Regions from separate parts of the Homo sapiens genome. Here region 2 is linked to region 1. The links come from fine-mapping of genetic effects on gene expression. A gene starts in region 1. The other region holds a variant in brackets. All regions are shown on one strand. Distances are from middle to middle. Region 1 holds the start of CSE1L (chromosome segregation 1 like). Region 2 has its middle 33 kb from the start of ARFGEF2.

The links. PIP is the estimated chance that this variant, and not a neighbour inherited with it, causes the effect.
Region 2: its variant is fine-mapped to the expression of CSE1L in whole blood (INTERVAL, PIP 0.92).

The regions. Positions count from the first base shown.
Region 1 is chr20:49,044,874-49,047,783 of GRCh38, reverse strand. CSE1L (chromosome segregation 1 like) reads right to left here and starts at 1,472. Exons shown (of 25, transcript NM_001316.4): 1 at 1,361-1,472. It overlaps CSE1L-DT (CSE1L divergent transcript), which reads left to right and starts at 1,728. Exons shown (of 2, transcript NR_110625.1): 1 at 1,728-1,924. RefSeq lists enhancers at 474-1,114, 1,080-1,149, 1,700-1,849.
Region 2 is chr20:48,886,857-48,889,766 of GRCh38, reverse strand. It overlaps a transcript of PREX1 not described here. Among named protein-coding and RNA genes, the nearest start is that of ARFGEF2, 33 kb to the left of the region's middle. The variant C/T (reference allele first, on the strand shown) is at 1,408.

The DNA of each region.
Region 1 (2,910 bases):
GTGAAACCCCGTCTCTAATAAAAATACAAAAATTAGCCGGGTGTGGTGGCGTGTAGTCTCAGACCTGTAGTCTCAGCTATTCGGGAGGCTGAGGCAGGAGAATCGCTTGAATCCGGGAGGCGGAGGTTGCAGTGAGTCGAGATCGCGCCACTGCACTCCAGCCTGGGAGGCAGAGCGAGACTCTCTCTCTCAAAAAAAAAAAAAAAAAAAAAAAAAAAAGAAAAGAGAAAAGAAAAAGAAAAAGAAAACAAAAGAAGAGGTTGGTTAGGGGAGGCCTAAGGTGAGGGAAACTTGGGAGAGGCGGCCTGCCTTGCAAAAATGTTGGTACTTCCCCAGCAAACAAAAGGCATGTGCAAATAATTTTAAATCGGAATAACCCTGGAATATGGAAGAAACAGAAAGCCACACTGGCTAAGGAGAAAGATGGGTGGGAGAGATGAATAAACAACCGTCAGCTCCCAGGGAACCTTTGTAAACCACGGTAAATAACTCAGCGCATCCTCAAAGCCACTTTCCGAGGTAGATTCTGTTATTAACCCCATTTTGCAGCTAAGGAAATGGAGGCTCAGTGAGATGAGGTGACCAGCCTCAAGTTACACCCCTAACGAGAGGCTACGTCTGGAATGAACCCAGGCGATCTAATTCCAAAGTCTATGCTCCGAACCACCACAGCACAGCGTTTCTCCCAAAACGAGGGAACCCTCCCCCAACCCGCGTTACAGGGGATTTCTATGTCCCGGGTGTACCGACTAGAATTCTCACAAACAATTCAGCAAAGTGAGATCACGATGCCCGTTTTACAGTCAGGGATACAAGTACAGAGGTTAGAGAAGGGTGAGTTCGGGGGCTTCACTAGAGTTAGGGCAAGGGACGACGCGAGGCAGCCGCAGCTCCACGCGCCCGCAGTCCCCGCCCGGGCAGGCCTCGCCGCCGCACACTCAGCTCGCGCGGCTAGCAGCCACCGTCGCAGAGAATGGACATGCGAGCGCGACCAATAAGGAGCGGCCTTCCCGAGCGGAGAGGCGGCGGCGCAGCCAATCAGCGCCGTGATGGAGAGGAAAGGGCGGGCAATCCGCAGGCTCGCGTTAGGCCGCGCCTCAGTTGCCCTCAGCCCTCACAGGCCCTGGGGTCGCCGCACCTGGGCCAGAGACCTAGGATGCCGCGAGGCGCGGCAAGCGCTCCCTAGGGAAGCCGAAGACCTTGCCTGAGCGCACCACCCGAACCCCGGGCCCACATTCCGCTCTCGCCCAGAGGCGCGGTTCTCACTCCCTAGCGCTCGTTAGTACCGGGAGCGCCTCATCCCTTCCTCAGCTGGGCCCCAAGAGCCACTCTGGTAGGCCGTGCACGCCCCGCGCCTCACCTCGTGGGGATACAGAAACGGAGGAGGGAACCCCAGCCGCGGACCGTAGCTGGCACTACCCGCTCCTGCCGCCGCTCCGCCTCACATTCAAACCCCGGCAAAATGGCGCGACAGCGAGCCTGAGGCCAGAGCGCATGAGCGAGCGGCCCGCTGCAGGGGGCGGGGCCAGGAATGCTCTGGCCCCACCCAAGTTCGAAGGGCCAATCGGGGCCCCGCTCTGTTTCTGCGCTGATCTCACAAGTGACAATGCTCTTTGGCTCTGACCATGCCAGCAGGCTTCACGGTTCTCGTTTTCCAAAGAGGAACACAGATTCAGCGAGCGGCTGCTGGCTTCTGACCCATTTTGATGTCAGGGCTTGGCACGTAGGAGGTGTTCAATGTTGATCGATCCAAGGTCGTGCACATAGGGTCTAAGACGGAAGAGAACTTCCTGCCCCTCTTGGAGCTTCTATTTTAGAGGGAGACACGGCCAGACAGGTCTCGAACTCCTGGCCTCAAGTGATCCGCACACCTTGGCCTCCCAAAATGCTGGGATTCCAGGCGTGAGCCACCGCGCCTGGCCTGGTATGTAAGTTTTGGTACTCTTATTACAGCCCACAAACCATATGGGATCTGGCCCCTGCCAGCCTGCCTGCCCTCATCACCTTCCGCTTCCCTCCTCTCCTCACCCTCACTCAGCTCCGCCACCCCACCTTCTTCCTGTTCCTCTAAGCTCCAAGCTTATTTCCACTTTAGAGCATTTATACTTGCTGTTCCCTGTGCTGGGATGTTCTAGATTCCTGAATGATTGGCTCCTTCTTTACATTTAGGTTCCAGCTCAAATGTCACCTCCACAAAAGAGGCCTATCTGAAATTGCCCACTCACCACCACCCAGCACACAAATTAGGGTTGCCAGGTTTAGCAAATAAAATGCAGGCTGCCCAGGTCAATGTAAATTTTAGAAAAAAATTTATAATTTTCTAGTATAAATACTGTGTAGGACATATTTATACTTAAAAATCATGCATTGCTTATCTGAAATTCACATTGAACTGGGTGCCCAGTGTTTGATCTGGTAAGCCTAGTTCCATGATATCATTATGGTATTTATCACTCTCCAACTAATTGTCTCTTCTTTATTTTGTTCCTCCTTCCGCTTCTCCCCTCCTAAACCCCTGCCCTCCTCCCCATCCATAACCTAAGGGATTCTATACAGCAAGGGCTTTTCTTTTTTTTTTTTTTTTTTAAAGACAGAGTCTTGCTCTGTCGCCCAGGCTGGAGGGCTGGAGTGCAGTGGTGCTGTCACAGCTCACTGCAACCTCTGCCTCCCAGGTTCAAGCAATTTTCCTGACTCAGCCCCCCAAGTTACTGGGACTACAGGTGCCCGCCACCATGCCCCGCTGATTTTTGTATTTTTAGTAGACACGGGGTTTCACCATATTGGCCAGGCTGATCTTGAACTCCTGACCTTGTGATCCGCCAGCCTTGGCCTCCCAAAGTGCTGGGATTACAGGCATGAGCCACCACGCCTGGCCAGGGCTTTTTTTTTTTTTTTTTTTTTCTTTTAAGA
Region 2 (2,910 bases), 160 kb after region 1:
TCTTCAGTACTGTTTTTTTCCTGGTTGTTTTTGCAAGCACAAGTGGCAACATACAGTGCATATGGCTCTACCACTTGCTTTTGCACCCCAAAATTAATAGCATGATCTACCTTAAAAATAAACCCTGTAGCTTCTACTTCATAGAATGACTATACTGTGGTTTATTGATCAGTTCCCTTTTTGAGGGGCATTTAGGGTGTTTCCAACTTACTGCCATTCAGAGCAAAGTTTTGATAAATATCCTCATGCACATGTGTACGTGTTTCTCTGGCGCAGACAAAAGTGAAATAGCTCAGTCAGTGGGTGTATGCAATTTCACTTTAATAGAGATCCTGAATTTCCCTCCAAAAAGGCTATATCAGTTTATAATCAGTTTATAATCCCATTTCCTTACACTCTTCCCAACCCTTGATAACATCACACTTCCAAATGTGTATTTCATAACCAGTGAGGCTAAAGTTTTTTTCATATGTTTACTGACCATCTGTTTTTCCTCTTTGGTGAACTGCCCATTTCTGTCCTTTGCCTGCTGTTGTATTGGGTAGTTTGTCTTTTTAAAAATGAATCTGTAGTAGTTCTTTATATATTTTGAGCACCAATCTTTTGCCTGTATAAACTACAGATATTTTCTCCTGTCCTGTCACTTGCTTTTCAACTTGGTTTCTGATTTTTCTTCTTCTTGTTGTTGAGGTGATGTATACTTATAAAACTTCTAACAGCAATTCTTGGCATATAGTTAGCATTCAACAAGTAGTGGGATGACACTAGCTAGTGTGTATTAAAGGATTCCCCCATGCAAAGCAGGGCCAGGACTAGGGTGAAGCAAGCCAGACAAAATTTAAGGGAGCGTTAACAAACTTGGTAATTAAGATAAAGTATTTGTAATGCAATATTTACCAAAATCGAAATGAATACAAAAATCCATGACAAACAAAATGGCTTTTTTTTTTTTTTTTTTTTTTTAGACAGGATATTGCTCTGCTGCCCAGGCTGGAGTGTGGTGGTGCAATCTCGGCCCACTTCAACCTCTGCCTCCTGGGCTCAAGAGATCCTCCCACCTCAACCTCCCAAGTAGTTGAGATTACAAGCATGTGCCACCATGCTTGGCTAATTTTTTTTTTTTTTTTTTTTTTTGAGTTGGAGTCTCGCTCTGTCGCCAGGCTGGAGTGCAGTGCTGCGATCTTGGCTCACTGCAACCTCCACCTCCCAGGTTCAAGCAATTCTCCTACCTCAGCCTCCCGAGTAGCTGAGTGCACCACCACGGCCAGCTAATTTTTGTATTTTTTTAGTAGCGATGGGGTTTCACTATGTTGTCCAGGCTGGTCTCAAACTCCTGGACTCAAGTTATCCACCTGCCTTAGCCTCCCAAAGTGTTCGGATTACAGTGTGATATGGTTTGACTGTGTC[C/T]CAACCCAAATCTCAACTTGAATTGTATCTCCCAGAATTCCCACGTGTTGTGGGAGAGACCCAGAGGGAGGTAATTGAATCATGGGGGCCAGTCTTTCCCGTGCTATTCTCGTGATAGTGAATAAGTCTCACGAGATCTGATGGGTTTATCAGGGGTTTCTGCTTTTGCTTCTTCCCTCATTCTTTCTTGCGGCCACCATGTAAGAAGTGCTTTTCGCCCTGCACAATGATTCTGAGAAATTCCCCAGACATGTGGAACTGTAAGTCCAATTAAACCTCTTTTTGTTCCCAGTTTCGGGTGTCTTTAGCAGCAGTGTGAAAACCTAATACAACAGGTGTGACCCACAGTGCTTGGCCCAAAATACCAGCATTTTATTATTTATTTATTTATTTATTTAATTTATTTTTTTGAGACGGAATCTCACTCTGTCGCCCAGGCTGGAGTGCGGCGGCGTGATCTCGGCTCACTGCAAGCTCCGCCTCCCGGGTTTACGCCATTCTCCCGCCTCAGCCTCCCCAGGAACTGGAACTACAGGAGCCCGCCACCACGCCCGGCTAATTTTGTTTTAGTATTTTTAGTAGAGACGGGGTTTCGCTGTGTTAGCCAGGATGGTCTCCATCTCTTGACATCGTGATCCGCCCACCTCGGCCTCCCAAAGTGCTGGGATTACAGGCGTGAATCACCGCACCCGGCAAACAACATTTTATTTTTATTTATTTATTTGTTTATTTATTATTTTGAGTTGGGGTCTCACTCTGTCGCCCAGGCTGGAGTGCAGTGGTGTGATCTTGGCTCACTGCAACCTCTGCTTCCCGGGCTCAAGCTGTCTTTCAGCCTCAGTCTCCCAAGTAGCTGGGACCACAGGTGTGAGCCACTATGCCTGGCTAATTTTTGTATATTTTGTAGAGACAGGGTTTTGTCATGTTGGCCAGGCTGAGTCAACCATGTTGGCCAGGTTTTGCCATGTTTTCCATGTTGACCAGTCTCTGACTCCTGAGCTCAAAGTGATCCGCATGCCTTGGCCTCCCAAAGTGCTGGGATTACAGGTGTGACCCACTGCTCCTGGCCACCAACATTTTAAATAAAGTGCTTTCCATGTATTGACTTGCTTAATCCTCATAAAAACTCTAAGAAAGATGGGGAAACTGAGGCACGGAGGTATGTATTAACTTGTTCAAGATTATGAGGCTGATCAGTAATAGCTGGGGTTTGAACCTATGCCACCTGCCTCCAGAGCCTTTGCTGTTTATCATGCAACTTTGGGCAAATCACCTACCTTCTCTAGGCTTCAGCTTCCTCATTTGCTGTTCCCTCATTGCCATTCCTCTTAAAGATAGTATTACCTGCCCTACCTACCTCCGATGGTTGTGAGGCTTAAATGAGATACTATATTGCTAAAGGGATTTTGCAAACTGTAAAGTACTGTGTACATGGAAGGGAGAACAACAGAGAGATCAACAGGGTCTTGGAGCCAGCCTGCTTGGATTCACCACCCAGCTCTG